3 separate regions of the Homo sapiens genome follow, and all the other regions are reported to be linked to region 1. The links are microRNA targets in miRTarBase. Many come from high-throughput screens and were not tested one by one. Region 1 holds a microRNA gene; each other region holds the end of a gene's coding sequence.

Evidence for each region. Region 1 holds the annotated microRNA hsa-miR-378g (ACUGGGCUUGGAGUCAGAAG, at 4,332-4,351, opposite strand). A microRNA usually pairs through its seed, bases 2 to 8, with sites in the 3' UTR of a target mRNA and lowers its output. Matches are read on the target gene's strand: a 7mer-m8 pairs with bases 2 to 8, a 7mer-A1 pairs with bases 2 to 7 and ends in A, and an 8mer does both.
Region 2: the mRNA of PRKAR2A is a reported target of hsa-miR-378g. Seed matches in the 3' UTR shown: 7mer-m8 at 3,306-3,312, 7mer-m8 at 4,357-4,363 and 7mer-m8 at 5,983-5,989.
Region 3: the mRNA of ZNF785 is a reported target of hsa-miR-378g. The part of its 3' UTR that is shown has no 7-base or 8-base seed match.

What each region holds. Positions count from the first base shown.
Region 1 is chr1:94,741,549-94,752,495 of GRCh38, forward strand. It overlaps MIR378G (microRNA 378g), which reads right to left and starts at 4,352; the gene lies at 4,312-4,352. All of the region lies in intron 1 of SLC44A3-AS1 (SLC44A3 antisense RNA 1), which reads right to left.
Region 2 is chr3:48,743,402-48,754,348 of GRCh38, reverse strand. PRKAR2A (protein kinase cAMP-dependent type II regulatory subunit alpha) reads left to right here. Exons shown (of 11, transcript NM_004157.4): 10 at 2,032-2,173; 11 at 2,631-7,763. The coding sequence ends at 2,764. Among named protein-coding and RNA genes, the nearest start is that of IP6K2, 32 kb to the right of the region's middle.
Region 3 is chr16:30,575,325-30,586,271 of GRCh38, reverse strand. It overlaps ZNF785 (zinc finger protein 785), which reads left to right and starts at 575. Exons shown (of 3, transcript NM_152458.7): 1 at 575-865; 2 at 1,022-1,150; 3 at 2,829-5,616. The coding sequence starts at 661. The coding sequence ends at 3,712. It also overlaps a transcript of ZNF688 not described here. RefSeq lists enhancers at 1-175, 777-1,377 and a silencer at 641-770.

The DNA of each region.
Region 1 (10,947 bases):
GGAAAGGCAGAAGTTAGAAGGTGAAGGAAGTAGGAAGGGTGGAGGGGAAAATGGGGTAATGAGTTCCTCATTTTTCTTGTAAGGAATCAAGTGGAATACAGTCTAAAATTATGAAGATGGAAAGACACAGAGGCAGTGGAGGATAACACACACCCTCATGTGGCAGGAGTCAATAAATACTGTTGAAAGTTGATAAATCAAAAAAGAGAGGTATAAGCATATTACTCAGTATTTTGTGGCAACCACCTAACGAACTGAAACCAGAACTGGTTAAAGTGGATTGCCGTTGGGAGTGGGAGGGAGTGAGGACAAGGAGAAGGAGACTTTGCATAGTGTTTTGTCCTATTTGAGTGTAACTTCCATCACATGTGGGCATTACTTTTAAAATAAAACTGGGAAGAAGAATAAGATTACCAAGCGTTGACATTGGGGAAGAAACAGAAGCTTTTATACCCTGTTTGCAAGAGTGAAAACTGAATTGGTCCAAGCTTTTTTTAAAAAAAGTCATGAAATGCTGAGAAAACTTGAAGTTATGTGTGTGCCTTTAGGAGTTCTATTTTAAGTAAGACATGGAAGTTTTAATACACTTATGCTGCAAACTGGGAAGTGCTAGGGAACCCACATCCTCCCCATCAGCCTGGCTGGAGCCATCTGGGACAAGCATCTATTTGTTACAGAAATTTTATACAGCAGGAGCTTGAGAGTGACTCTGTCACTTACCTCATGAATGCACAAACTCCTGAGAAGAGGAGCCGGAGGGAACGGCAGTGGCCTTTCCTGAAGAAATGAGGGATGCTTTTCTCTCACAACTTCATGGCAGGCCACAATTTTGTCTTACACCATATTGTCACAGGAAGAAATGCTGCCTGCGGAGACTCAAGAACAGGACACAGACCAAACAGGAAAATCCCAATGAGACCATGGATCCCTGGAGGGGATCCTCTTTTGCAACCCTCAAAGGCAAAGCACTTTGCAGGCAGTAGGCATTTATATTAGTGTGCTAGGGCTGCCATAACAGAATAGCATACACTGGGGGTGCTTACACAACAAATATTTATTTTCGTACAGTCCTGGAGGCTCAAGTTTGAGATTAAGGTGCACCAGGATTGGTTTCTGGTAAGGCCTCTCTTCCTGGCTTGCAGACAGCCACCTTCTTGGTGTGTCATCACATGACTTTTTCTCTGTGTATACAAAGAGAGAGAGAGATCTCTAGTGTCTCTTTTTATAAGGACACCAGTCCTATCAGCTTAGGATCCAATCCTTATGACCTCATTTAACCTTGATTACCTTCTTGAAGGTGTTATCTCCAAATACAGTCATATTGGTAGTTAGGGCTTCAACATATGAATTTGGAGGTGACACGATTCAGTCCATAACAGTATGGAATAAGCACCTATGGTTATTGAATAATGAATGCTCTGACTGCTTTCCTGGATACATGGGGGCCCTAATTTTTATGCTACATAATGGATGCTGTAAGGAGAAAGAAACTATCCTTCTTGTTCACACCCATCTTTTCCCTCCTCAAGGTGGATGTCATTGCTAATATGATTGCACTGCTAAGGTCATCAAGAGGGCAGTTTTTACAGTGTCCCTATGAGATGGCAGGGACTTGCTCACCCATCACTCAGCAAACATCCACATGTCCATGACCAGCTACTGCCCCCCTCACACCTGGCCCCACATTGGGACCTGGCTCATTCTATCTTCATCACTACCAGCTATGGTCTGAATTTTTGTGTCCCCTTCCTCCACAGATTAATATGTTGAATCCTAATTACCAACTCGATAGTATTAGGAGATGGGACCTTTGAGAAGTGATTAGGTTATAAGGATGGAGCCCTCATGGACCGGATTAATGGAAAGAGAAGAAAAGAAAAGAAAAAAGAAAAGAAAAGAAAAGGAAAGAAAGGGGTCCAGAGAGCTGCCTTGCCCTTCTACTATGTGAGGACACAGCAAGAAGGCATCATCTATGATCCAGGAAGTGGGCCCTCACCAGACACCAAATCTGCTGGTGCTTTGATCTTGAACTTACCAGTCTTCAGAACTGTGAGCAACAAATTTCTGTTGTTTAAAAGCCACCCAGTTTAAGGTATGTTTGTTATAGTCGCCCAAACAGACCAAAATGCTCTCTCTTTCTAACCAAGGGGTAATGAGAGGCTGAGATCTGTATTCATTTTTAGGGGTAAATAATGGGGGCTCCACTTCAGTTTATAGCCTTAATTGTATGCTCTCTGGAGGAGGAGAAAATGGGGATGGGCAGAGATGTAGAATAGATATTGTACACACCCCACAAAAAAATAGCAGCCTTTGTTTTCCATTTGCTGTCTTCTCTCTGTCCTACCATCTGTCCTCAGAGAGAAGAGGCCTCACAGGCAAGAAGAACACGAGAACACAGATGCTCCCAGGGTCCCTGGAAAAATGCCATCAAAATCTAGTGTACATCTGTAACAAAGACAGTTTATTGTTCCAAGAGGCTGCATGTTTCACCTAATAAAGAGTCATATAAACATAAGGAAGCTCTGGCCTCAAGCTACAAATGCATTTGCTCACTGAGTGCCTGACTGGAGGACAGACTGTGCTTCCTGAACAAACCAGAACCATATAAAAACAATCCTCCCTGAGTACACAGGACCCAAAGTGATTTCTCAGGATGCTCATTTCCTTTCACAAGTAGTCCCAGGTAGTATGTCATGTCCAGAGCAGTCCTGGTACTCTCCTAGAACACCACAGCTCAACATCCTTTCGGTTCACTGTCCAGAGGCCTAGCATGCTCATTTCCTCTCTAAACCCCTTGACTCTCAGAAATGTCCCTAACACATTTACAGTTTACAAAGTATTTTCACATGTCATTTAATTCTTGCAAGTACTCTGTGAGATGACAGAGACTCAATCATTCATTTATTCAGCAAGCACTAATCAAGGGCTAGGTACCATGCCAGACCCTGGGGAGACAGAACAAGCTAAGATGTGCTGCCCACACTTGAGGAGCTCACAGAACACCAAGGGAAACAGGCAATGCCCCGGCCTAGCTGCCATGGCAGGAGGGCACCACAACTTAAGAGAGCACAGAGGGAGTCCATTCTGGCTCAGGAGAACCAGGGAGGTTTCCTGAGGAATATGGTCTCATTCCTGATGGGAGTCAGAGCTGAGCAGGCAAAGAAGGGGACCAAAGGAATGCCAGGCAAGCAGGAGGGCATTCAAGTTATAAAAGAGAAAGCGTGGCCCAAGTGTGGTGCTTTGAGCAGCTGAGTATGGCTTGAAGTAGAGTGTGAAGTGTGGGAGGGGAGGTGGACAGGAGATAAATCCAGAGAGGAACTCGGGGCCAGATCACAGGTGAGTATATTTCAGGACATGGTAAGGAAATTTGGATTTTTACCCTAGGGAAATAAATAGGTAATTGCTAAGGGTTTTAAGTAAGGCAGGTACATGAATGAGCTGTGCAGTTTAGAAAGAGTAATCAGAATGGGTAGGTGCAGTGGCTCACACCTGTAATCCCAGGACTTTGGGAGGCCAAGGCGGGCTGATCACTTGAGTTCAGGAGTTCAAGACCAGCCTGGCCAATATGGTGAAATCTCGTCTCTACTAGAAATACAAAAATTAGCCAGGCGTGGTAGCACACACCTGTAATCCCAGCTACTCAGGAGGCTGAGGCAGGATAATCACTTGAACCTGGAAGGAGGAGGTTGCAGTGAGCCAAGATTACATCACTGCACTCCAGCCTGGGGGATAGAGCGAGACTCCATCTCAAAAAAAAAAAAAAAGAGTAATCAGCCAGTGCAGATGCTGGACTGAGGGAATAAGCCAGGAAGATCCTGAGTGGTCCAGGAGAGAGAAGAGATTTTCATTCAGAGCAGTGGGAATGGGGATGGGGAGTAGGGATGGTTCAGGATATATTTAAGAGGACATACAGGACTTGTGACTGGATGACTGTGAATGGTGTAGGGGAAGCTGGGGCAAACATCCAGATTTCTGTTTGGGCCCATGAGTAGATGATGGTGCCATTCACCTAAGTAGGATGAGGAAGAGGAACAGGTTTGGGAAGAAAGTGAACGATTGATTGGGCATGCTGAGTTCTAGGGACATATAAATCCCAAACAGAGATGTTTGGGGAAGTTTGGGTTCAGGGCTCGGCAACTCAAGGGAGAGGTCTGGCTTGGTGATATGGATTTAGGGGACTCTGGCATAGTAGCTGTAGATGGTGTCACAGAAGTATGTGAGGTCTCCCAAAGGGAGGATGCAGAAGCCTGATGTCATTAGACAGATGAAGGGACTGAGGCTGCCTGAAGATCTCATAGCTGGTCCATGGCAGAGCTGGGCTGGAGCCAGGTCTTCTGACTCCAAGCCCAGTGCCCTATCTGCCACACAAAAGTCTAGCCAAGGACTCCTGGATATGAGCCTGGGCTGTACCTGGAAGCCAGCAGGTTTTACCTCTGTTGTTTCCTTGTTTTATCTAATAGGAAGTAGCCCTTGAGCAGTGGCCAAGAAGCCCTTCATCATGTTGCTCTTGGTAGGCTACAAGGGTGAGTGGAGGAATAGTCTAAATACCTACTGGGGAGATACCCTTGGGTGAGACAAGGCAGAAAATGCTCACACTTGCCACCATGTTCACCCTGTCATTCAATCCTTACATCTGCTCTTCCTGGGTCACTCACCTTCCTGCTTACTTCCCTAGACTCTGCTCACATCAGGTTCTTTGCTTCACCTCCCCTCTCCATCAAAATCTTCTTGTTTTAGTCCCATCCCACCTCCACTCTATAGTTCTCTGCTAGACTATGAGATAAAGCAAGTCCTGCTAAGATGGGTACTAATCAGTTAATGAGAAATCCATCCCATGGTACCCACTCCTTTTAACCAGAATTCTTGGAGACATGTAAGTAGCATTGCTAAAGGCAATAATTTGAAGCAATTTGGCCAATTATTGAGGAAAGGATAGGCATATAGGCAGGAGAGGAAGTAAGAGAGAAAGTTGGGGCCCGATCACCATCGGTATGTTTCATATTACATTAACATGTTTGGAGTTGAGTTCATTCAACATGGTGATGCAGTGGCCTGCTGGTTAAGGCCCTCCTTGTCATGACAGTTGACATTCTATTTCAACACCTGTAAACAATAGGTGTGCCCTTCTGTACACACACACCGTAAGCATCTCTTGTCTCCTCATCTGCAATACAACAGAACAGAGACAGGGTGATTTTTCAAATCAAGGCCACAGGTCCCAAATGTTTTTCTCAAATTCTGTTAGTGATCTCATTGGTAGAACCAGTGCCAGGCCGGGCTAGAAATCCAATCAGAAACAATGTTTACTAAGGGCTGAATTAAGAAGGAATCTCTTGGGTGAGGGAGGGTTTTTCTCCCTTGGCAAAATATGATTTGCTGTTTTCAAGTTAATGAAAAGAAGGGGGAAAACAAAAAATAACAACTGAAAGATCTTTTAAAGGAAGTACAAACTTGGACAGACCAAGGAACACTTATGAAACAGCCTGCCCTGCTGTCTGGTTCCAGCCTTGCAAGACTTAAGCCACAGTGACCCCAGGGTCACGGAAAGAAGCAGCCCGCTGGGGTTAGGGTTTGAGGAGGAGGAATGCTGTCCAGCACATGTGGGGCAGGGCGGCAGGTTTATCTCAAGGGCTCAAGATTCTACAGTAAGCCCCAGGGTATGTTGACTGCCTGTCTGGGTAGACATCGGGCCACCCAGTCCTCTAATGTGACTCTGGATGATGGGTTGGCCGCAGATGGTGAGGCGAGCCCAGCTGGCCTTACAGCTACAGACAGGAAATGCCAGAGCCCTGGGGATTGGGCATCATGGAGTTCATTAAATCACATGCCTTCCAGCTGTAAGGTTGTCCAGTCTCACTCCCATCAGTTGATGTCTGAATTCCCTCAGCAACATTCTTACCAAGTGGTCATTAAGCCAGTACTTGAATAGCCCCCATGACAGAAACTTTTATCCTTCAAGAAAGTCAGTTTTGTCTTTGGATAGTTCTGGCTGGAGGGGTAGGAGTTACTAAATCCCTCCATTACTTCAACTGCCTGGTGGGGGATGGTTCTCTGCACTCACACAGAAGACATTTCTGCCCATCCCAAGTGGCAGGAGTTGGTCTGAACACCTGGGTCTGCCAGAAGGCACATCATTCTAGTCACCCTACATCTCCAAGCATAGGTGACAGGGGCATTTTGAACTGCATGTCACAGGAAGAGGTCTGCTTTGTTTACCTCTGAATCTTCAGCAGCTGCCCCATGATTGACACTAGAAAAACTAGATAAATATTTCCAAAAAATGAATTTATGAACAAGCCTAAGGCTTTGCCATTTATCTCATCAAGAAAGAGAATTTGGATTTACAAAAGTCAAATGTGATTTTAAAGGGCATTCAACACTCAACAAAGTCATTCTAACCACTCCTCCCTTAACCCAGTGCACGCCACCTAGGGTAAGTACCAAATTTTGTGCTGTGCTTTTGCAATGGGTCTCTACTTGAAGAGATATACTATTTCCTTTATCATATTGTAAATTCCTCCAGGAAGTTTCACCAGAAAGTTATTCTGACTTATTGTATAACTTCCAAAGTTATACAGTGCAGGGCAGACATTGAATAGTAAAAATGTTCCACACTTGGTCTATACTAGGTACCCACAAATATTTATTGAATGAATGAGTGAATGAATGGCAGAGGGAAAGGCTTTGTTGTTGTTTTGTAAAAGTAGAGAAGTCAGATTATCCAAACTTTACTTCTTACAAACATAAACATGCATATATGCACACACACATTCCTTTCCTTCTCTTAACTTTGAATAATTCTTGGAGTGTTTTGACTATTCCCAAACTTATTTTTCAAAAATAAATATTTCCACCGTTTCCCTTAAATTAACCTACTGTATTTTTGGCCATTAATCATAAACCCTGGGTTTTATTTGTAGATAATAGTAAAAATTAATAATTAAGAATGTACATACTATAAACTGTAAAATAAGAACTAAAGTGACACAGTAAAGAATTATGGATAATAAATATTATTATCCATAAATATTATCCATAATTCTTTATTGTGTTACTTTAGTCCTTATTTTACATTTTATAGTATAAATAGTAGAGGAGATAAATAGAATACTTTTTAAAAATACTGAATTAGTCCAAAAGAAGGTAGAAAAAGAAGAAAAATAGAACAAAAAACAGATGAGACATAGAAAACAAATACCAAGATGCTATATTTAAACTGAAGCATCTCAATAATCATATCAAATGTAAATGGTCTAAACATCCCAATTAAAAGAAAGAGATGTCCAGATTTGATTAAAAATAAGCGAAAAGCAAGACCCAAATAAATACTACCAATAAGAAACCCACTTTAAGTAAAAAGATACAAATAAGTGAAAAGCAAAAGGATATAAACGGTAATCTTAAGAAAGCTGTAGTGGCTATATTAATATCAGAAAAAGCAGATTTCAGAGCAAAAAGTATTTAGCCAGGGATAAAGCTGTTTCCCATTTAGTAAAAATAAAGGTGCTAAATTATCAAGAGGACATAGGATAGGAATCATAAATGCTTATATTTGTAACAACTAACCTTCAAAATACATGAAACAAAATATGGAAAAATTGCAAGGATAAATTAACAGATACATGATTATAATAAAATATTTTAACACTTCCCTCTCAGTAGTTAATAGACACAGAAAGAAAATCAGTACAAATAACAACTCGAATAACACTATCAACCAACTTGATCTAATTGACATTCAGAGAACATTCCACCAAAAAACAAACAAACAAAAAGGTCAACATAATACAAATTCTTTTCAAGTGCATATAGAACATTTTCAAAGACAGACCATATTCTGGGCTATTAAGCAAGTCTGAATACATTTAAAAGGATTTGGGTCATACAAAGTATATTCTCTGACCAAAAATGGAATTAAAATAGAAATCAGTAACAGAAATATATCTGGAAAAAACTGCAAATATTTGGAAACTAAATTTCACACTTATAATCTCTAGGTCAAAAAAGAAATCTCAAGGGAAAATACAGTATATTTTAGAATACATAAAAATGAAAATACAACATATCCAAATTTGTGGGATGCAGACCAAGCAGTACATAGAGGTAAATTTATAGCACTAAATGCTCATATTAGAAAAGAACAGTCAGGCATGATGGCTCATGCCTATAACCCCAGCACTTCGGGAGGCTGAGGAGGCAGGATAACTTAAGGCCAGGAGTTTGAGCCTAGCCTGATCAACATAGCAAGACCCTCTCTCTATAAAAACTGCAAAACAAACAAAAAAACAAACAAAATTAGTCAGGTACAGTGGCATGCACCTATAGTCCCAGCTACTTGAGAGGTGAAGCAGGAGGGCCCAGGAGTTCAAGACTGCAGTGAGCTATGATCATGCCACTGCACTTCAGCCTGGGTAGCACAGTGAGACCCTGTCTCAAAAAAAAAAAAGAAAAGAAAGAAAGAAAGAAGGAAGGGAAGGGAAGGAAAGGAAAAGAAAAGAAAAAGAAAAAGAAAGAAAGAAAGAAAGAAAGAAAGAAAGAAAGAAAGAAAGAAAGAAAGAAAGAAAGAGAAAGAAAGAAAGAGAAAGGAAGGAAGGAAGGAAGAAAGAAAGAAAGAGAAAGAAAGAAAGGAAAAGAAAGAAAGAAGGAAAGGAAAAGAAAAGAAAGAAAAAAAGAAAGAAAGAAGGAAGGAAAGGAAAAGAAAAAAAAAAGAAAGAAAGAAGGAAGGAAAGGAAAAGAAAAGAAGGCCCGGGCATGGTGGCTCACACCTGTAATCCCAGCACTTTGGGAGGCCCAGGTGAGCAGATCACCTGAAATCAGGAGCATGATTCAGGAGCATAATTCAGGAGCATAAATCAGGAGCATAATTCCAAATGCTGAAATGCCAAAAAATCAAAATCCTGAAAATGTAATTCTGGAAAAAATAATTTTTAAAAATTCTTTAATAATATTTATGTTTTAAAAGGGTCTTTGTTTGAGAAATATACCAGAACACTTCATAGGCCACTTTACAAAATGAAATAGGCAATAATAACTATATGTTTTTCAAGCATAAACACTAGATATACTAACAACAGTTGCACAGATATAACAGTTATAAGCAGATGAACTGTATTCACAAAGAAATAGGTCAAAAGCAAAATGTATAAATGTAGATCACTATGGTTGGTAATTGTGTGCACCCATGTTTATAATTTCAGTTATCTGAAATACTGTGACAGATGACCTATGTCGTTTGATAAGATGAATCAAAAACTGCAATGGGTCACCACTGCATATGCAGTCGTGCAAAGAGCCTAGATCTCAAAAAATTTTACCTTTCACAAATGCAGTTGTATGAAGAGGAAATATCTTCACTTATTGAGAAAGCTTTGGTGTTTTTACATACAAGCACAATGGTTACACACAATCAGTGTTGTGATAATGCACTTTTGGGAAGTCAAATTTGCAAAAAAAATGCATAAAACAAATCAAAACTCTCCAAAAGTCTTTACATGGTTTATACCTCTAGTATTAGAAATGATGCAAAGAGAAATACTTAGCATAGCAAATTGTAAAAAATAATGCTGATACTTTAAAATAGTGGGGGAAAAGTAAGAAAAAAACTAAAAAACTAAAAAGAAAATTCAGCATATTAAAAATATATTACAAGGGTAGATTGTGGGCAATTGCACACACGTAGTCCATAAGAACAGGCCAACTTTCATGATCATTAACTATTTTCTGAAGTCTTGCATTGTGATGAATAGCTGCTTTTCATCTTTTAGGGCATGGCTCTCCTCAAAGAATAAGTTCACATTCATTTTCTTTTTTTTTATTATTATACTTTTAAGTTCTAGGGCACATGTGCACAACGTGCAGGTTTGTTACATAGGTATACATGTGCCATGTTGGTTTGCTGCACCCATTAACTCGTCATTTACATTAGGTATATCTCCTAATGCTATCCTTCCCCCCTCTCCCCACCCCATGACAGGCTCCCATGTGTGATGTTCCCCGCCCTCTGTCCAAGTGTTCTCATTGTTCAATTCCCATCTATGAGTGAGAACATGCAGTATTTGGTTTTCTGTCCTCGCGATAGTTTGCTCAGAATGATGGTTTCCAGCTTAATCCATGTCTCTACAGAGGACATGAACTCATCCTTTTTTATGGCTGCATAATATTCCATGGTGTATATGTGCCACATTTTCTTAATCCAGTCTATCATTGATTGACATTTGGGTTGGTTCCAAGTCTTTGCTATTGAGAATAGTGCCGCAATAAACATACATGTGCATGTGTCTTTACGGCAGCATGATTTAAAATTCTCTGGGTATATACCCAGTAATGGGATGGCTGGGGTCAAATGGTATTTCTAGTTCTAGATCCTTGAGGAATCGCCACACTGTCTTCCACAATGGTTGAACTAGTTTACAGTCCCACCAACGGTGTAAAAGTGTTCCTATTTCTCTACATCCTCGCCAGCACCTGTTGTTTCCTGACTTTTTAATGACCGCCATTCTAACTGGTATGAGATGGTATCTCATTGTGGTTTTGATTTGCATTTCTCTGATGACCAGTGATGATGAGCATTTTTTCATGTGTCTTTTGGCTGCATAAATGTCTTCTGTTGAGGAGTGTCTGTTCATATCCTTTGCCCACTTTTTGATGGGGTTGTTTGTTTTTTTCTTGTAAATTTGTTTGAGTTCATTGTAGATTCTGGATATTAGCCCTTTGTCAGATGAGTAGATTGCAAAAATTTTCTCCCATTCTGAAGGTTGCCTGTTCACTCTGATGGTAGTTTCTTTTGCTGTGCAGAAGCTCTTTAGTTTCATTAGATCCCATTTGTCAATTTTGGCTTTTGTTGCCATTGCTTTTTGTGTTTTAGATGTGAAGTCCTTGCCCATGCCTATGTCCTGAATGGTATAGCCTAGGTTTTCTTCTAGGGTTTTTATGGTTTTAGTCTAACAT
Region 2 (10,947 bases), not on the chromosome of region 1:
GGAGAATCGCTTGAACCCGGGAGGCGGAGGTTGCAGTGAGCTGAGATCGCACCATTGCACTCCAGCCTGGGCAACAAGAGCCAAACTCTGTCTCAAAAAAAAAAAAAGAAAAAAGTAGATCTGTTGTTTCAACTGAAAACAATAGTTTTGGCCTGGCATGGTGGCTCACGCTTGTAATTCCAGCACTTTGGGAGGCCGAGGCAGGCGGATCACGAGGTCAGGAGATCGAGACCATCCTGGCTAACATGGTTAAACCCCGTCTCTACTAAAAAACACAAAAAATATTAGCCAGGTGTGGTTGCGGGCACCTGTAGTCCCAGCTACTCAGGAGGCTGAGGCAGGAGAATGGCATGAGCCCAGGAGGCAGAGCTTGCAGTGAGCTGAGATCACACCACTGCACTCCAGCCTGGGCAACAGAGTGAGACTCTGCTCAAAAAAAAAAAAAAAAGAAAACAATAGTTTGAAATGTCTGTGTCATTTTACTTACAGTTTTTGGACTAGTGATGTTTGTAGATTTCTCAGATATTCATTGACACCTGCTATGATCACAGCATAGTGTTAGGTGCATAAGATCAGCAGCAGCATGGCACTGGGATATTGGGGATGGGTGGTTTGTCAGAAGTTCAGAGTCCTGGCTTTTCCCCAGATTTACTGAATCAGAATGTGCATTGCGAGAAAACCTGCGTAATACGGGAGCTGGTGTGTATGTGACAGTGTGATAAGTCCCTTCTGTTTTAGAGAAGGGACTAAGTGGGCACGAATATGGCTGCAACTCCAGAGAATACTACTGAAATTGGAAAGGGAAAGTTGGCTCAGATGAAACAGACCAACTTCAGAGCAACAGGGCAGAAGTGTAGAAGGAAGAAGGGTCAAACCGTGTAAGCTAGTGTAGCAGTTTTGTTTCTTTTAAAAATTAACCAAAAAGGAAATTATCTTTCTGCCTACAACATAAAGTGGTTCTTAGAGATTGAGACTAATTCTTACTAATAAATTCTAAACAATTATTTACTTAAATTATCACTTTGGTTAGCAGTTGGATTTGTTAAAAAAAAAAACCTCTAGATATTAATATAATGTAGTATATTATCTTAAATTTAGTTACTTAACTCTTATTTTAAAAAATGGGAGGGGGGAGTGCCTATAATCCCAGCACTTTGAGAGGCCGAGGCGGGCAGATTATGAGGTCAGCAGATGGAGACTATACTGGCGAACATGGTGAAACCCTGTCTCTGCTAAAAATACAAAAAAATTAGCCAGGCGTGGTGGCGGGCGCCTGTGGTCCCAGCTACTTGGGAGGTTGAGGCAGGAGAATGGCATGAACCTGGGAGGCAGAGCTTGAAGTGAGCGGATATTGCGCCACTGCACTCCAGCCTGGGCGACAGAGCGAGACTCCATCTCAAAAAAAAAAAAAAAAAAAAAAAAAAAAAAAAAAGGAGGAGGGAACCACTAACTTAAGGTACAAATAGTACTTAAAAAGAAATTTGTTGGCCAGGAGCAGTGAATCACTCCTGTAATCCGAGCACTTTGGGAGGCCAAGATGGGAGGATTGCTTGAGGCCAACAGTTGAAGGCTGCATGAGCTGTGATCATTCCTCTGAACTCCAGCCTTGGTGACAGAGTGAGACCCTGTCTCTTAAAAAAAAATGTGGGGGGCATGGGGGATTTTGTCACTGTAAAATGTTGTTCAAGGCGCAGTCTCAAATCAGAGAAATAGCCCAAGTTTGTGGCTCATTACCTAAGAGAAGCATTGTCCTTATTTAGACAAGATTGGGCATGTTCAGAATGGTATGGCTGTAGATTACCTTGAAAATGTTAGGACTCCGAGCTCTAGGTAAAAAGCAGACTTTTCTGATCAAACCAGACCACTGAGATTAGTCCATGGAGTTTACATGGTACAGTTAGTGAATTTTCTGCAAAGTGAATTCCTCAGTAATTGTGTAGAGTATGCTGAGAACAGTGTATGTGTGTGCAACTGGACATGCCCAGCTGTGATCCTGGAGTCAGCCTAGGTCATGTTCTTTGCCTGCTGTAGACTAAATCAAACAAGGATGGTGGGAACCAGGAGGTCGAGATTGCCCGCTGCCATAAGGGGCAGTACTTTGGAGAGCTTGCCCTGGTCACCAACAAACCCAGAGCTGCCTCAGCTTATGCAGTTGGAGATGTCAAATGCTTAGGTAAGAAAAGTTCTTTATGCATTAATATTCTTTTTCTAACATGTAATATTTTTTTCCCATCAGCAAGCCTTGACATATTCTGCCATCTTTTACTGCTGTCTAGGCCTAGGCAGTTTATGTGACCAACCAGAGATGGATGAATGGATGCTTTCAGCAAACATTTCTGAGTACTGATGACAGCCTGTGAGCAAGACAGGCATGCAGGTTCTTTAGCCGTATGAAAAGAACTGATGTCCAGGGCTGTGGGAGAATGGGGAGAACAGGAGCTGCTGGACTCTGTAAAGTCTCTAACCTGGATGACAGTCTTCTGAATTCATATAGAAACATCCCTTTTTGCAAGTGGCTGGTGTCCCAAGGCGTAATCTCATACAACATGAATGGGTATGTTTAGGAAAAGGTTTGCATGAGGGAAATGGCTTGAATTCATTCTCTCCCTCACCTCTTTTTAACAATGCAGTTATGGATGTACAAGCATTCGAGAGGCTTCTGGGGCCCTGCATGGACATCATGAAGAGGAACATCTCACACTATGAGGAACAGCTGGTGAAGATGTTTGGCTCCAGCGTGGATCTGGGCAACCTCGGGCAGTAGGTGTGCCACACCCCAGAGCCTTCTTAGTGTGACACCAAAACCTTCTGGTCAGCCACAGAACACATACAGAAAACAGACATGACAGAACTGTTCCTGCCGTTGCCGCCACTGCTGCCATTGCTGTGGTTATGGGCATTTAGAAAACTTGAAAGTCAGCACTAAAGGATGGGCAGAGGTTCAACCCACACCTCCACTTTGCTTCTGAAGGCCCATTCATTAGACCACTTGTAAAGATTACTCCAACCCAGTTTTTATATCTTTGGTTCAAAACGGCATGTCTCTCCAACAATTTAAGTGCCTGATACAAAGTCCAAAGTATAAACATGCTCCTTTCCTCTCTTGCTGCTACTCTTGCTTTTGGAAGTTACCACAGGGTCTGCAGAAACCTGTTGTATAACTGTAGACACTCTCTAATGGTTCTCAAAGGAGGAAATGTAGCCTTCAGTCTCCTCATTTGTCCTTTGAGGAAGTCCACATTTGTTCACAGTTGCAGCCTTTGGTTTTACAGTGGGAAATGGTGGTGGATGATATGGACATATGTAGCCCAGTGGCATTGTACTTTCTGCTGACAGCTGCACACATTACAGCTGTCTCCAAACCCACAGTGATGCTTAGGGAAAGACCCTGCTCAGGACCCAGCAGGTCAGCACCCCAGAGCAGACTGATAGGTCCGTGGGACCCATGTTAGAGCAGAAAATTTGGGCTCAGCACATTTTACTGTTAGTAGAGAGCCAGGAAACGTTTTCTGGGTTGGGGATTTTGTGGGATTTTTTAATTTTTTTAGTAGGTTTTGTTTAACCTCTGTGCAGTTTGTATGAATGAATTGCTATACATTTATAAGGAGCCAGGGTCTGGAGGGTTGCTATCACTTTGTCCAGCCCAAATACCTTCCTGGGCAACTCCTACCATTTGTTTGCAGTTGCCTCTACTAGCTGATGGCAGTATGCTGGAAAGAGGTTGTACTATAAAGAGAGTTCTTTCCTTCTACTCCAGAGTTGTTGTGTAGCTTTGCCATTGAACCGATCAATTTTTAAACTCTTTAAAGAAGCAGCAGCTATTTTTTTGAAATTAAAGAAAATTCTCAGGCCAGGCTCAATGGCTCATGCCTATAATTGTAGTGCTTTGGGAGGCTGAGCTGGGAGGATCGCTTAAGACCAGCCTAGGCAACAGAGTGAGATCCTGTCTCTACAAAAACAAAAATTTTTTTTTTGTTTTCTTTTTGAGACGGAGTTTCGCTCTTGTTGCCCAGGCTGGAGTGCAATGGTGCGGTCTTGGCTCACCGCAACCTCCGCCTCCCAGATTAAAGTGATTCTCCTGCCTCAACCTCCTGAGTAGCTGGGATTACAGGCATGCGCCACCATGCCGGGCGAATTTTGTATTTTTAATAGAGACAGGGTTTCTCTGTGTTGGTCAGGCTGGTCTCAAACTCCCAACCTCAGGTGATCCGCCCACCTCAGCCTCTCAGAGTGCTGGGATTACAGATGTGAGCCACTGCACCTGGCAAAAAAAAAATTTTTTTTTAATTTGTCAGGTGTGGTGATGCATGCATGTAGTCCCAAATACTTAGGAGGCTGAGGTGGAAGGATCACTTGAGCCCAGGAGGTCAAGGCAACAGTGAGCTGTGATCATGCCACTGCACTCCAGTCTGGGTGACACAGTGAGACCCTGTCTCTTAAAAAAAAAAAAAGAAAGAAAAAAAATTATTCTTTAGGTAATTTCACTTGGACATATTCATGTATATGGAGTTTGTCAGCTGACTCAGGCATTTACCCTAAAGATCAAATCTGTTTTCAAAAATTGGCATTGGCCAGGCACGGTGACCCACACCTGTAATCCCAGCACTTTGGGAGGCCGAGGCGGGCGGATCACGAGGTCAGGGGTTCAAGACCAGCCTGGCCAACATAGTGAAACCCCGTCTCTACTAAAAATACAAAAAATTAGCTGGGCATGGTGGTGGGCGCCTGTAATCCCAGCTACTTGAGAGGCTCAGGCAGGAGAATCGCTTGAACCTGGGAGTGGAGGTTGCAGTGAGCCGAGATTGCACCATTGTATTCCACCCCGGGTGACAGTGCAAGACTCCATCTCAAAAAAAAAAAAAAAATTTGGCATCATTTACAATTTCATAGAATTACTGTGAAGGCCTTTCTAGTTGAGATGTTGGGGTATTTGGGATTCTAATTGTTAACCCCAGAAGAAGGTAATTTAGCTTGTATTTATTTAAAACCCATTTAGCCTTTTACTTATATCTGGTAGAATTCCAGTGATCATCCTAATAAGGTATATTTCAGAATAATTTTTTTTTCCTTCAGAATAACTTAGAATCAGATGCTATAAGGGCTCCTAGGAGCAGTGTGAAATTTCCGTAAAGATAAATTTGAATGTTGTAACCAAGTTTATATTAAACCAAGAGGCCATTTCCAATATGATTTTTTGTTTCTTTTTAACTTGTTAAGTCCCTAAGAGATTACATGCTAGGGCTTGAGTCATTTCTATTGTAGATAATGATGGCCCACACAGTCACCTTCAACTATCCACATAAGCTAGGCTTTCCGCTTTTGCCACGGACAGTGTGACCAAGATATTTCCAGAGTAAATAACCCACCACAACCTTGGTAATTCCTCTTTTCTTCTTAAGCTCCAGGAAGCGAAAGCAGAAGGACTCTTTTCAGACTGCCCTCTGTAGCCTACATTGCAGCTTTCCAAAACAGGCAGCTAGCACTGGGAAAGCCCATGTGGTGACCCCATATTTTTCTGAGGTTCTTCTTTTCCATGGTGTTACTTTATTATCAGAAAGTAAATTCAGAAAACAGGTCTTGCCCTTAGCAGACAAGAACCACACCAGTTTCTTGTAAAGGTAACGGATACATTGGGATTCAGGAGTGACACAGAGGTCCAGCCCCAGAACTTGTAAGGATTTTGTTTGAACACTGAGCAGATGCCTCCTCCCTGCCACCCATCACACTAGTTAGGGCTGGCCATGAATTCTATGCCAGAGTCACTCCTGCAGTCTGCTAGGGATGGGCCTTCTTATCCCACTCTCGCACACATCCCAGTCTAGTCTTTGCCTTCACAGAGTCCTCCTTGACACCCCTGACTTAATGATAGTTGCTGTTTTGGAGTAGAATTGATCAGGTTTAAGTCATCCTGCTCAGGTTGGGCATAGTGGCTCATGCCTGTAATCTCAGCACTTTGGGAAGCCAAAGTGGGAGGATTGCTTGAGCCCAGGAGTTCCAAACCATCCTGGGCAACAGAGGGAGACCCTGTCTCTACCAAGAAAAAAAAAAAAAAAAAAAGTTAAAAAAACAATTAGCTGGACCTGGTGGTGCACACTCAGTAGGCTGAGGTGAAAGGATTCCTTTAACCTGGGAGACTGAAGCTGCAGTGAGCCATGATCGTGCCACTGCACTCCAGTCTGGGGGACAAAGTGGGACCCTATCTCAAAAAAAAAAAAAAAAAGTCATCCTCCTCCAACTACTGATTGACATATGGATCATCAGTTCAGACCCTCACTGCATACAGGATCCCTAGAGGGTTCTATTTAATAGCTTGAGGAAGGGAGACTTTAAAAGGACGTGTGTGAGTGAAATAGGATATAGCCATTACCACGGTGCCAGGACCTGACAGCGTTCCAATTCTTTTTGCAGCATGGGGAATCAAAGGTGGCATGCCAAGTTCAACTCAGGGCTGAGGTATCCACATTGTCCACATCAGGCAAGCCCTGCACTGACGGTTGAGCCTCATGGAGAGGAGCATGTGTTGGAAAGAGATCCCTTTGTTAACTGTTTTGTGGTGTTCTCTTCAATGAATTAGAGCTCATGCCCCTTTTCTGGCTTTGCTGTTGATTTTGGATGGTAGAGAATATTCCTGAGAGCCTTCCTTTTGGCCCCCAGCTTATGCCACCCACTCTCTTCTCTTGGTTGAATTCTCTGAAGGAAAGGTTCATGTGCTATTGTCCTGTTAGTCAATAGTCTTCATATATAATTGTGTTACATATATTGCTGTAGACTCTCAGAAATCAGGGTAGAGCTTTTCCTTTGAGCAGTTTAATGAGTGAATTCAGCAGCAAAGTCGCAAGAAATGGTTCTCCAGCCAGGAGAGGTTATGTTTATCCTCTGATTGCCCGTTTTCTCTGCACACAGTGATATCGTATTCAGTGAGAGGTGCTGTTGGCACCCAGCAGCACCCTGGGCACACAGCATTTCATGTCATGTCACAGTGTACAAGCTACCCTCTAATTCAGAAAGAAGAGCATTTTGCACAGAGAAAAATAAAAAGATCCATGAATGTCATCTTTTATCTTTTATTTTCAGTTGGCTGATGTTGGAATTTTTGTTCTTGTCATGAACTTGTAAACCAATCTTGCCAAGATACAAGTTGTTTTGGTTTTTCACTACAATGACCTCTTGTTCCTCCTGTCTTGACTGCTGACGTTCCTCAATGATTCTATTGTCTATTTTATGGGAAGCAGCCTTCCCATAGGTTTCCTTTTACACACTGCAGGGCTATCTTTATACTTTAAAAAAAAAAAAAAAAAAAAAAAAAAGGACAAGAACTGTCACTAACCTCATGGAGGGGTTTGCGTAAAACCATTTAGCCCACCTTGAGCAAAGGGTAGATTCCGTGTTGTTTTTTTAAGCTCACTGTAATAAAATAAATCTAATTCAGCATTATTGTGCTACCTCAAAGGTAAAAAATGTTTTAAGGTCTTCTTTTGGTCCTGAGTTCTATATACAGTGTTTGAAATGTCCTTCATTTGGAATTATTTTTTAAATTCTTGGAGTGAATTTTATTTTAATCTGTTTTAATCTTGTATTTTAATCTCAGAAGAATAAGTGATTGAAACGTGATCAATTCTTGCTCTGTGGTGTTAAACATATAATGAACAGTCATTAAGAATTAAGTCACTGTTTGCCATAAACAAGGTTGATGTTCTTTTTGTTGTTGTTAAGGAAACCCTAGGGCTCGGCTTTACTCTTGATTAATAAAGGCTGACAAATCATGTCTGACTTTCTGGTGCAGTCTTATGTTACGTGTTTGCCATTTTGCTTCAGGGCTCCAGGCCGTCATAGCACTCCTTTGGCAGATTCATTCTTCTGGTAGATCTGGGATTAGGGTATGAGCCCTTGAAAATTAGGGACCCCTTGTACTAGTCAGGGTTCTCCAGAGAAGCAGTCAGTAGGGTGTGTGTGTATGTGTATAAAGATTCTTTTTTTTTTTTTTTTTTTTTTTTTAGTGACAGGATCTCACTATGTTGTCCAGGCTGGTTTCAAACTCCTAGGCTCAAGCAGTCTTCCTGCCTCAGCTTCCAGCTTCCCAAAGTGCTGGAATTATAGGTGTGAGCCACTGCACCCAGCCTAAAGATTTATTATAAGGAATTGGCTCACACAGTTATGGAGGTGGGCAAGTCCCAAGATCTGCAGGGTGAATTGGCTAGCTGTAGACCCAGGAGAGCCAATGGTTTAGTTCCAGTTCAAATGTGAAGGCCTGAGATTCAGAAGAGCCAATGTTGTTGTTCTTGTCCAAAAGCCAGCAGGCTCAAGACCCAGGAAGAACCAGTGTTTCAGTTAGCGTCCAAAAGCAGGAAAAAAGACAACATCCCAGTTCAAAGGTGGGCATTCTGTCTTACTTGGGGAAGAGTTGGCCTTTTTGTTCTATTCACGCCTTCGACTGATTGGATGAGGCCCACACACATTAGGGAAGGTCATCTACTTTACTTCTATACCAAATTAAATGTTAATCTTATCCAGGCTGGGCACGATGACTCAGACCTGTAATCCCAGCACTTTGGGAGGTGGAGGTGGGCGGATCACCTGAGGTCAGGAGTTTGAGACCAGCCTGGCCAACATGGTGAAACCCAGTCTCTACTAAAAACACAAATATTAGCCAGGTATGGTGGCACATTCCTATAATCCCAGCCATTTGGAAGGCTGAGGTAGGAGAGTCACTTGAACCCAGGAGGTGGAGGTTGCAGTGAGCCGAGATTGCATCATTCCACTCACTCCAGCATGGGCGACAAGAGTGAAACTCAGTCTCAAAAAAAAAAAAAAAAAAAAAAAACCTTATCCAAAAACACCCTCACAGAAACATCTGGAATAATGTTGGATCAAATATCTGGGCACACTGTGGCCCAGTCAAGTTAACACATAAAATTAGCAATCACAACATGGTATTTGAATGGTTGTGGATGATGTGCAAGGGTATCCTGTATATCCCTTGCCAGGAAGACAAACTCACCAATGAAACCCAGCAGAGCTGGGTATGGTGGCTCACACCTGTAATCCAGGTGCTTTGGGAGGCTAAGGCAGGAGGATCATTGAAGTTTGAAACCAGCCTGGGCAACATAGTAAGACCCTGTCTCTACAAAAAATAAAAAATAGCCTGGCACGGTGTCTGAAAAAAAAAAAAAAAAAGGCTGGGTGCGGTTGCTCATGCCTATAATCCCAGGACTTTGGGAGGCTGAGGCAGGTGGATCATTTGAGGTCAGGAGTTTAAAACCAGCCTGGCCAACATGGTGAAACCCCGTCTCTACTAAAAATACAAATATTATCCAGGTGTGGTGGCGGGTGCCTGTAATCCCAACTACTCAGGAGGCTGAGGCAGGAGAATTGCTTGAACCCAGGAGGTAGAGGTTGCAGTGAACCAAGATTGCGCCACTGCACTCCAGCCTGGGCAACAGAGTGAGACTCCGTTTAAAAAAAAAAGTAGAAAACATCTGTCACTCAATATTATTTACATAATTTCCTTCTCTGTGACATGGCTATAACCAGAACTAGCAAGGATGCTGTGACAGCCCACTGTACCTACAATTTCTTTTCAGGTGACCAAAGGAAGCGCCTTGTTGCAGTTTGATCTTGCCCACATTTGGACAGAGACACCTGCCTGTACCAAAGGGCCAACTGTGGGAGCATATGAAATCTAGGACCCAAGCAACTGGTAGATGGAAATCTTGGGACTCACTAGGGCCCAATAAACTGGTAGCTGAACCCTCTAAAAACCAAAGTGTCTTTGTTTGAAAGCTTTAAAAATTAAATGTCAGCCAGGCATGGTGGCTCACTCCTGTAATCTCAGCCCTTTGGGAGGCTGAAGTGGGAGGATCGCTTGAGCCCAGGAGTTTAAGACCAGCCTGGGCAACATAGTGAAACCGCATCTCTCGCTCTTTTTTTTTTTTAAAGACAGAGTCTTGCTCTGTCGCCCAGGCTGGAGTGCAGTGACGTGATCTTGGCTCATTGCAAGCTCCACCTCCTGGGTTCATGCTATTCTCCTTGCCTCAGCCTCCCGAGTAGCCAGGACTACAGGCGCCCACCACCATGCCCGGCTAATTTTTTTTTTTTTTCAGTAGAGACAGGGTTTCACCGTGTTAGCCAGGATGGTCTCGATCATGAAACCGCATCTCTAAAAAATTTTTTTTAATTAAAAAAAAATTGTGGCTGGGCACAGTGGCTCACGCCTATAATCCCAGCTCTTAGGGAGGCAGAGGCAGGAGGATAGCTCGAGCCCAGGAGTCCGAGACCTGCCTGGGCAACGTAACGAGACCCCATTCTCCACCAAAAGGAAAAAACAAAATTGTGGTTTTGTTTTCGTGGTAGTACTGCTATGACATAAGACATTCCAGGACAATGTCAAGATCATATCATCCGTAGTCTCAGCCTTGAAGAGGGAACATTACATGAGGACTATGTTAGTGTGTCCTAACAGGAAGCTAGAAATTTGTCCCATCAAAGTTACCTGAATATATTACCTGAGTATATAGTGATAGGGAATCACTTAATTTTATAACAACAATTAAAACAGTATTAAAAAGTGGGAGGAAATTGGGGTCACTTAACAAAGCATCATATTAAGTATAAATTTTGCTTCCTTTACCCATTCTCTCTAGAGACAAATCATGGCCAGTGATACATACTGTTACCTGATTGTTTTCTGATATATAAATAAAATGTGGAGTGTTGGCCAGGTGCTGTGGCTCACGCCTGTAATCCCAGCACCTTGGGAGGCCGAGGCAGGCGGACCATGAGGGTAAGAGATCAAGACCATCCTGGCCAACGTAGTGAAACCCCGCGTCTACTAAAAATACAAAAATTAGGGCGGGCACAGTAGCTCACACCTGTAATCCCGACACATTGGAAAGCCGAGGTGGGCAGAACATGAGGTCAGGAGTTCGAGACCAGCCTGACCAACATGGT
Region 3 (10,947 bases), not on the chromosome of region 1:
AAGGGAAGACATCTGTGACCTCGGGGCAAAGGTCAAATTAGATCCTGGGTAGGATCCTGTTCCCGCTGCCCCTCGGGCTGGCACTGCCAGGAGTACTCAGAGCTCAAAGCTGGGATCTGCAGTCCCTTACCCACTCAGTGCACGCCGCCTAAGGCTTTGCGCTTCACCTTTACTCACCTCGAAGCCCTGGACATCCGCATCTGCCCTAAGACTTCTCACCTCAGTAGCAGAAGGAAGTCGCGTCAGCTGGCCACAGCCTCTCTCCTAGGAGACCGTCCGGGAAAAGCGAGTCAGGGTAGACCCTGAGGCCCCTCAGCTCCGGCTATTTTCAGATCTGTCGCTCCTTCACCCTCAGCCTTTCAAACAGGCCACTCCAAAAAAAAGCCCAATCACAGCCTTCCTTCTTCTCCTGGCCTTCCGGCACTGTCCAATCAACGTACGCCATCTATCGGTTAGTGGTGTTGCGGGGCCACCCTTCCCGCTGGTTTCCCTCGTGGTGTGTAAAGGCAGAGAGGAAAGGCGAGGGGTGTTGACGCCAGGAAGGTTCCATCTTGGTTAAGGGCAGGAGTCCCTTACGGACTTGTCTGAGGAAAGACAGGAAAGCGCCAGCATCTCCACCTTCCCCGGAAGCCTCCCTTTGCCAGGCAGAAAGGGTTTCCCATGGGGCCGCCCCTGGCGCCGCGCCCGGCCCACGTACCCGGGGAGGCCGGGCCCCGGAGGACGAGGGAAAGCAGGCCGGGCGCCGTGAGCTTCGCGGACGTGGCCGTGTACTTCTCTCCCGAGGAGTGGGAATGCCTGCGGCCAGCGCAGAGGGCCCTGTACCGGGACGTGATGCGGGAGACCTTCGGCCACCTGGGCGCGCTGGGTGAGGCCGGGCCCTCCGGCCGGGACCCCCAGTCCGTCGGTGGGAAGCGGTGATCGGTGTCCCCAGAGGCTAGTGGGCTGGAAGCGGGGCGCCGAGGGAGCAGTCTCATTCTCCCCTCCCGTGCGCTCAGCCGAGCCCATTGTTTCTCCTTCGCAGGATTTTCAGTTCCCAAACCCGCTTTTATCTCGTGGGTGGAAGGAGAAGTGGAGGCGTGGAGCCCGGAGGCCCAGGATCCCGACGGTGAGAGCTCTGCAGCTTTCAGCAGGGGCCAAGGACAGGAAGCAGGTACTTCATTTGGATAAGTAGCCGTGGAGAAGCCCCAACCCCCGCCCCCAACTCACTCACATCCTCAGCGCAGGCTGCCCCCTCCAAAGTCCCATCCTGTCTCCCTGCACCCTACCCCAGAAACGTCCTCATCTCACTGCAAAATGGCCCGATGGAACAGCGAAATTGGGATCTATGGAACCGATTAACCATACTGGAAAACCTCAGTTTAATGCAAAATAGAGCTTGAGCTTCCTAGGAGGTCAAGGGAAAGGGGAAACCTGTAATTTGATTTTTGTTGTGGGATAAAATGAAGACAGATGTTCCTCTTGGATATTAATGATGTGAACCACGTGTAGTAAATAACACCATTAATTAGATTTTTAAATGAAGAGAAATGTTTTTCCTGCAGCCCTGATACCAGAATAAATGCTTGTTCCCAGAAGGTCTTCCCGTGGAACCTAGTGAGGCAGTCCAAGTGTAGACTTATTTTTTGAGACAGTCTCGCTCTGTTGCCCAGGCTGGAGTACAGTGGCATGGTCTAGGCTCACTGCAACCTCCGCCTCCCAGGCTCAAGCAATTCTCCTGCCTCAGCCTCCTGAGTAGCTGGGATTACAGGTACCCGCCATCATGCCCAGCTAATTTTTGTATTTTTAGTAGAGACGGGCTTTCACCATCTTGGCCAGGCTGGTCTTGAACTCCTGATCTCGTGATCCACCTGCCTCTGCCTCCCAAAGTGCTGGGATTACAGGCGTAAGTCACTGTGCCCCACCAGCAAGTGTAGACTTTTTGGTGATGGTAAGAGCAGAGAGGAAAGGTGCCAAAAGAATTTGAGCTGGTACCAAAGAAGGTCATTGAATGGCTGTTTTGTAAAGGGATCATAAACAGGTTCAGGATGGTAAGTGCCATGAGGACTGGGACCATCACTGTGTCCTCAAAGCCTGACACAGAGTTAAGCGTTCAATATTGTTCACTCCTTTTTCTTTTTTTATTTTTTTGAGACTGAGTCTTGCTGTGTCGCCCATGCTGGAGTGCAGTGGCACGAGGTTGGCTCACTGCAACCTCCACCTCCCCAGTTCCAGGGATTCTCCTGCCTCAGCCTCCCAAGTAGCTGGGATTACAGGCGCCCACCACCTCGCCTGGCTAATTTTTGTAATTTAGTACAGACAAGGTTTCCCCATGTTGGCCAGGCAGGTCTCGAACTCCTGACCTCAGGTGATCTGCCCACCCCAGCCTCCCAGAGTGGTGCTGGGATTACAGGCATGGGCCACCACGCCCAGCATTTTTTTTTTTTTTTATTAGAGAGTTGCCCAGGCTGGAGTGCAGTGGCCCGATCACAGCTCACTGTCCCTTGAATTTCTGGCCTCAAGCGATCCTCCCACCTCAGCCTCCTGAAGTGCTTGGATAACAGGTGTGAGCCATGGCACCCGGCCCGACTCCTCTTTCATTATCTCCAGTGCTCAGGGCCTTCTTGTGTTAACCTGCAGACCATGGCATTTGCTTTTACTCCAGGCTGGCTTTCAGGGCTTCATGAGGCCCCTATCATTAAGCCGTGCTCCCTGGGCGCCATATTCTGAACCATTCCTGCTGCCTTCCAAGGCAGGACATGGTCCCGGAATATGCTGGTTTTGACTTTATCATCTTTCCTGTCTCAGGATCCAGGGATGAGTTTCTGATTTTATCATCTTCCCTGTTTCAGGATCCAGGGATGGGAATGAGGAGAAGGAAAGGCTGAAGAAGTGTCCAAAACAAAAAGAGGTGGCGCATGAAGTGGCTGTCAAGGAGTGGTGGCCCAGCGTCGCCTGCCCAGAGTTCTGCAACCCTAGGCAGAGCCCCATGAATCCCTGGCTCAAGGACACTCTGACCCGAAGACTGCCCCACTCTTGCCCAGACTGTGGCCGCAACTTCAGCTACCCTTCCCTCCTGGCCAGCCACCAGCGGGTCCACTCCGGGGAGCGGCCCTTCTCCTGCGGCCAGTGTCAGGCGCGTTTCTCCCAGCGCAGGTACCTGCTCCAGCATCAGTTCATCCACACCGGCGAGAAGCCCTACCCCTGCCCCGACTGCGGGCGCCGCTTCCGCCAGAGGGGTTCCCTGGCTATCCACAGGCGGGCTCACACCGGGGAGAAGCCTTACGCGTGCTCAGACTGCAAGAGTCGCTTCACTTACCCCTACCTGCTGGCCATCCACCAGCGCAAGCACACGGGCGAGAAGCCCTACAGCTGCCCCGATTGCAGCCTCCGTTTCGCCTACACCTCCCTGCTGGCCATCCACAGGCGCATACACACCGGCGAGAAGCCCTACCCCTGTCCTGACTGCGGCCGCCGCTTCACCTATTCTTCCCTCCTCCTCAGTCACCGGCGCATTCACTCCGACAGCCGGCCCTTCCCCTGCGTGGAGTGTGGGAAAGGCTTCAAGCGCAAGACCGCCCTGGAAGCCCATCGGTGGATCCACCGCTCCTGCAGCGAGAGGCGCGCGTGGCAGCAGGCCGTGGTGGGGCGTTCAGAGCCCATCCCTGTTTTGGGAGGCAAGGATCCCCCAGTTCACTTCCGGCACTTTCCAGATATATTTCAAGAGTGTGGGTGATGGCGTTCACACAAACTGGTCAGCGTTTCCCTGGAGAGGAAGAGGCAAGGTTTGTGTATTTGGGGGATAAGGAAAGGAAGTGGGCGTTTGAGGAAAACAAAGTTCTGCCTTAGGTAAAAAGCAGAGGTAGGGGCACAGAGGGCTGTGGGGAGGAGGCAGGAATCTGAAAAGGTGCCTGGGGGTTGACCCCATTTTCTGAAGCTCCAGCACACAGGGCCCCGTGTTCACGTCCCATCCTTCACTGAAAACCATTCACCTAACTGGCTTTTCCTTCATGATTGTTCTCTCCCTTGTAGCTCTCTGCTTTTTGGCCTGTATCTCTCCTACTCCTCTGAGATGGGGTCCCCTACATTCCAGTGCCTATTAAAGGAGCCTGCACCCACTCTGGACCCCCCAGAATAGAGGGGATACCTCAGGCCTGTCCCTCGGCTGGTGGGGGGGGCGGAGCTCATCCCAGGATTCTTTTCTTTTTTTTGAGATGGAGTCATGCTCTGTCGCCCAGGCTGGAGTGCAGTGGCGTGATCTCGGCTCACTGCAACCTCTGCCTCCTGGGTTCAAGCCATTCTCTGCCTCAGCCTTCCCATTAGCTGGGATTACAGGCATGCGCCACCAGGCCCAGCTAATTTTTGTGCTGTTAGTAGAGACGGGGTTCCACCATCTTGGCCAGGCTGGTCTTGAATTCCTGACCTCGTGATCCACCCGCCTCGGCGTCTCAAAGTGCTGGGATTACAAGCGTGAGCCACCGACCCCTGCCGAGGATTCTGCCTTTTACCAATGCAGGTGAAACATCTGGCAAGGAGACACCTGGAGTGTAGGTGTTCCTTGGTCTTGAAGACCTAGAGGTGGCCATAGAGAGGACAGTGGCCTCAGGTGGGGAACTCCCCCCCCACTCTCATTCTGCAAGTGCACAAACTATCAAACATAGCGGACTCTGGAACTGGGCCAACTCTTCACTGTATGCATTAGTGATTGCAGTGTTTTTTTCTTCTTCAGATATTTGCATGTTCCCTGGATTTTGTATTTTTTGATAAAGATATATTCTTGGGCCACAGTAGCTGGAGATATAATGCCGGAGGATTCTTTTTTTTTTTTTTTTTTTTGAGACAGAGTCTGTCTCTATTGCCTGGGCTGGAGTGCAGTGGCCCAAGCTACGCTCACTGCAAGCTCCACCTCCTGGGTTCACACCATTCTCCTGCTTCAGTCTCCCGAGTAGCTGGAATTACAAGCACCCGCCACCACGCCCAACTAATATTTTGTATTTTTAGTAGAGACGGGGGTTTCACCGTGTTAGCCAGGATGGTCTCGATCTCCTGACTTCGTGATCCTCCCGCCTCGGCCTCCCAAAGTGCTGGGATTACAGGCGTGAGCCACTGCACCCAGCCTCTTTTTTTTTTTGAGATGGAGTTTCGCTCTTGTTGCCCAGGCTAGAGTGCAATGGCATGATCTTGGCTCACTGCAACCTCCGCCTCCTAGGTTCAAGCGATTCTCCTGCCCCAGCCTCTTGAGTAGCTGGGATTACAGGCACCCACGACCATGCCTGGCTAATTGCATTTTTACTAGAGACAGGTTTCACCATGTTGGCCAGGCTGGTCTCCAATTCCTGACCTCAGGTGATCCACCCGACTTGGCCTCCCAAAGTTCTGGGATTACATTTTTTTTTTAAAGAAAGAATAAATTAATTGTGATTAAAGTTGAAATCAAGGCATAGTCTTTCCAGTCTAATTTTTACTGTAATGCTTGTATGTCAACAGTTATGAAGGCCAGGCGCGGTGGCTCACGCCTGTAATCCTAGCAGTTTGGGAGGCTGAGGAGGGTGGATCACTTAAGGTCAAGAGTTCAAGACCAGCCTGGCCAATATGGTGAAACCCCATCTCTACTAAAAATACCAAAAAAAAAAAAAAAAACGGCCAGGCACGTTGGCTCACACCTGTAATCCCAGCACTTTGGGAAGCCGAGGCGGGCAGATCACGAGGTCAGAAGATCGAGACCATCCTGGCTAACATGGTGAAACCCCGTCTGTACTAAAAATACAAAAAAATTAGCCAGGAGTGGTGGCAGGTGCCTGTAGTCCCAGCTACTTGGGAGGCTGAGGCAGGAGAATGGCGTGAACCCGGGAGGCGGAGCTTGCAGTGAGCCGAGACTGCGCCACTGCACTCCAGCCTGGGTGACAGAGCGAGACTCCGTCTCAAAAAAAAAAAAAAAAAATTAGCCAGGCCTGGTGGCGTGCACCTGTAATCCCAGCTTCTTGGGAGGCTGAGGCAGAAGAATGGCTTGAACCCAGGAGGTGGAGGTTGCAGTGAGCCAACATAGCGCCACTGCACTCCAGCCTGGGCAACAGAGCAAGACTCTATCTCAAAAAAAAAAAAAAAAAAAGGCCTGGTGTGGTGGCTCACGCCTGTAATCCCAGCACTTTGGGAGGCTGAGGTGGGTGGATCACGAGGTCAGGAGATCAAGACCATCCTGGCTCACACAGTGAAACCCCATCTCTACTAAAAATACAAAAAATTATCCGGGCATGGTGGCGGGCGTCTGTAGTCCCAGCTACTGGGGAGGCTGAGGCAGGAGAATGGCATGAACCCGGGAGGCGGAGCTTGCAGTGAGCTGAGATCGCGCCACTGCACTCCAGCCTGGGCGACAAAGTGAGACTCCAGTCTCAAAAAACAAAACAAAACAAAAAACAACAGTTAAGAGAGTTCTTTCTGGCCCATTTAGATCTGCTAGCCCTACTTTTGAAGAGGAAACTTTTGAAGGAATGAACAAAAGAGGTAGGTGGGACTAAGCATTTCTGCATTCCAGGACTGGTGGTCAGTGACTCAAATATCTCTTTGAAAAGACTGCTTCTTTGAATCCTTGGGTTCCAAGATAATTAATGGGAACTGGTGCCGGGCACGGTGGCTCACACCTGTGATCCCAGCACTGTGGGAGGCTGAGGCTGGTTAATCACTTGAGGTCAGGAGTTTGAGACCAGCTGGGCAATATAGTGAAACCCCATCTCTACCAAAAAATTAGCCAGGCGTGGTGGCACATGCCTGTAGTCCCAGCTACTCAGGAGGCTAAGGCAAGAGGATCACTTGAGCCTGGGAGACAGAGGTTGCAGTAAGCTGAGATGGCTCCATTGCACTCCAGCCTGGGCTACAAAGCAGGACTCTGTCTCAAAACAAAAACAGATACAAAAACTGGGAACGGGGTGTTATCTTTACTTCACCACATAGCCTCTCCTGAATTGGTGGACCTGGATTCCTAGCTTGGCTCAGTCCCCACTGGCTGTGTGGCCTTTAGCATCACCTAGATTCTACAAATAACATTTTTCTCTATTTGTTTTACACATGTCAATCTGCCTATCCATCCCTCTATCCATTCATTTATCCATTTTATTAATGTATTTCAAAGTAAGTTGCAGACATCATTACATTTCACTTCTAAACACTTCAGCATACAGCTGAGTTTTATGCAAGAAACTTAAGCTCTCAGCTGGGTACAGTGGCTCACACCTGTAATCCCAGCACTTTGGGAGGCTGAGGCAGGAGGATTGCATGAGATTGGGAGTTTGAGACGAGCCTGGAAAACAGCAAGACCTCATTTCTACTAAAAATTTTAAAAATTAGCCGAGCATGGTGGGGGAGGGTGAAGAAGGAGGATAGCTTGAGCCCAGGAGTTTGAGGCTATAGTGAGCTATGATGGCGCCACTTCAGTCTGAGTAACAGCAAGACACTATTAAAAAAAAAAAAGAGCCAGGCGCAGTGGCTCACACCTGTAATCCCAGCACTTTGGTAGGCCAAGGTGGGCAGATCACCTGAGGTCAGGAGTTTGAGACCAGCCTGACGAACATGGAGAAACCCTGTCTCTACTAAAAAAAAAGAAATACAAAATTAGCCAGGCATGGTGGCACATGCCTGTAATCACAGCTACTCGGGAGGCTGAGGCAGGAGAATCGTTTGACCCCAGGAGGCGGAGGTTGCAGTGAGCCAAGATCGTGCCATTGCACTCCAGCCTGGGCAACAAGAGTGGAACTCTGTTTCAAAAAAGAAAGAAAGAAATTCAGCTCCCACTTAAAGTTCAGTTGTACTCTGTTATTGACAAGTAAAGTCGATTGAAGCCCAGTCATCTCCTGTATGTTGTGTGACTTCTCATAATTATCTGATCAAGAGTCTTGAAGAAACATTTACAATTTGATGGGCAATAAAATAATTTGAAAGCAAGAGCATTTTGTTGTTCTTGTTATTTCTTGAGACAGGGTCTCACTATAGCCTAGGCTGGAATGCAGTGGCACAGTCACGGCTCACTGCAGCCTCGACCTCCTGGGCTCAGGTGTTTCTCGTTCTCATCTCAGCCTCTTGAGTAACTGGGACTACAGGCATATGCCACTATGCCCAGCTAATTTTTGTATTTTTTGTACAGATGGGGTTTTGCCCAGGCTGGTCTTGAACTCATGGGCTCAAGTGATCTGTCTATCTGAGCCTCCCAAAGTGGTAGGATTACAGGTGTTAGCCACTGTGCCCGGCCAATTTTTGTATTTTTATAATGAGTGGCAGGAAAAACAACTCATCAGCTACACGGAACAGTTTTAGTCTTACTTGAAAGTTTGTTTCAGGCCTGGCGCTATGGCTCATACCTGTAATCCCAGCACTTTGGGAGGCCGAGGACGGTGGATCACTTGAAGCCAGGAGTTTGAGACCAGCCTGGCCAACATGGCAAAACCCCATCTCTACTAAAAATACAAAAATTAGCAGGTTGTGCTGTTTTCAGCTACTTGGGAGGCTGAGGCACGAGAATTGCTTGAACTCGGGAGGCAGAGGTTGCAGTGAGCCGAGATTGTACCACTGCACTCCAGCCTTGGCCACAGAGTGAGACTCTGTCTTAAAAAAAAAAAAAAACCACAGGCCGGGTACAGTGTGCAGTGGCTCATGTCTGTAATTCCAGCACTTTGGGAGGCCAAGGCAGGCGGATCACGAGGTCAGGAGATCAAGAGCATCCTGGCCAACATGGTGAAACCCTGTCTCTGCTAAAAATACAAAAACTGGGTGTGGTGATGCGTGCCTGTAATCCCAGCTACTCAGGAGGCTGAGGCAAGAGAATCGCTTGAACCAGGGAGTTGGAGGTTGCAGTGAGCCAAGATCCCACTACTGCACTCCAGCCTGGCGACAGAGCGAGACTCCATCTAAAAAAAAAAAAAAAAAAGTTTCTTTCAATCTGTTTAGTTAATATTTTTATTGTTCAGCTTCATCTTCTTAAGTCTTCTGCATACTTAGTTCAAAGAGAAGTGATTTACAACATAGGATCTGAAGAAACAAAAGTATTTTTGGTTCAAGTTGCTACTCTGTTTAAAAGGAGAATCCAAATAGCCACTCACCTGTAGTCTTAGCTACTCAGGAGGTGGAAGTGGGAGCATAGATCACTTGAGCCCAAGAGTTCCAGGCTGCAGTGAGCTTTGATCTTGCCACTGCACCCCAACCTGGGTGACAGAGTGAGACTCTGTTTCAAAATGACAATAATAGGCTGGGCATGGTGGTCCACACCTGTAATCCTAGCACTTTGGGAGGCTGAGGTGGGAGGATCACTTGAGCCCAGGAGTTCCAGACCAGCCTGGGTATCATGGAGAGACCCCATCTCTACAAAAACGAAAATTAGCCAGGCATGGTGTTGCACACTTCTAGTTCCAACGACTTGAAGGCTGAGGTGGGAGGATCACCTGAACCCAGGGAGGTTGAGGCTGCAGTGAGCTGTGATCATACCACTGCACTCCAGCCTGTGTGACAGAGTGAGAACCTGTCTCAATAATAATGATAATTAATAATAATAATCATAATAGAAGGAGAATCAAAATAAAACATGCAGATGGTCAACAGGTACATGAAAAAATGCTCAACACCACTAATCATCAGGGAAATGCAAATCAGAACTACAATGAAGCCGGCCTGGTGGCTCACGCCTATAATCCCAGCAGCTTAGGAGGCCGAGGTGGGCGGATCACCTGAGGTCAGGAGTTTGAGATCAGCCTTCCCAACATGGTGAAACTCCATCTCTACTAAAAATACAAAAATTAGCTGGGTGGCTGGGCGCGGTGGCTCACGCCTGTAATCCCAGCACTTTGGGAGGCCGAGGTGGGTGGATCATGAGGTCAGGAGATCGAGATCATCCTGGCTAACACAATGAAACCCCATCTCTTCTAAAAATACAAAAAATTAGCCGGCGTGGTGGCGGGCACCTGTAGTGCCAGCTACTCCAGAGGCTGAGGCGGGAGAATGGCGTTAGCCCGGGAAGCGGAGCTTGCAGTGAGCCAAGATCGCGCCACTGCACTCCAGCCTGGGCAACAGAGCGAGACTCCATCTCAAACAAACAAAAAAATTAGCTGGGCATGGTGGTGCACGTATGTAATCCCAGCTACTCAGGAGGCTGAGGCAGGAGAATCGGTTGAACCCAGGAGGGGGAGGTTGCAGTGAGCTGAGGTTGCGCCACTGCACTCCAGCCTAGGCTGCAGAGCGAGACTGACTCAAAAACAAAAAAGCACACAATGAGATATTATCGTACCTTAGTTAGAATGGCTGTTATTAAGAAGACAAAACATGACAGGTATTGGCAAGGATGCTAAGAGAAGGCAACTCTTGACTGGGCGCAGTGGCTCACGCCTGTAATCCCAGCATTTTGGGAGGCTGAGGTGGGTGGATCACCTGAGGTCGGGAGTTCAAGATCAGCCTGACCAACATGGAGAAACCTCATCTCTACTAAAAATGCAAAATTAGTCAGGAGTGGTGGCACGCGCCTGTAATCCCAGCTACTTGGGAGGCTGAGGCAGGAGAATCGCTTGAACCCTGGTGGCAGAAGTTGTGGTGAGCCAAGATTGTGCCATTGCACTCCAGCCTGGGCAACAAGAGTGAAACTCCTTCTCCAAAAAAAAAAAGAAAAAAAAAGAGAAGGGAACTCCTACACACTGTTGGTGGGAACGTAAGTTAGTACAGCCACTACTGAAAACAATATGGAGATGTCTGAAAAAAACAAAAACAGAACTACCATGTGGGCTGGGCATGGTGACTCACACCTGTAATCCCAGCACTTTGGGAGGCCAAGGCTGGTCGATCACCAGAGGTCAGAAGTTCACAATAGCCTAGCCAACATGGCAAAACCCCTTCTCTACTAAAAATACAAAATTTAGCTGGGTGTGATGGAGGGTGCCTGTAATCCCAGCTACTTGTGAGGCTGAGGCAGGAAAATCACTTGAACCTGGGAGGCAGAGGCTG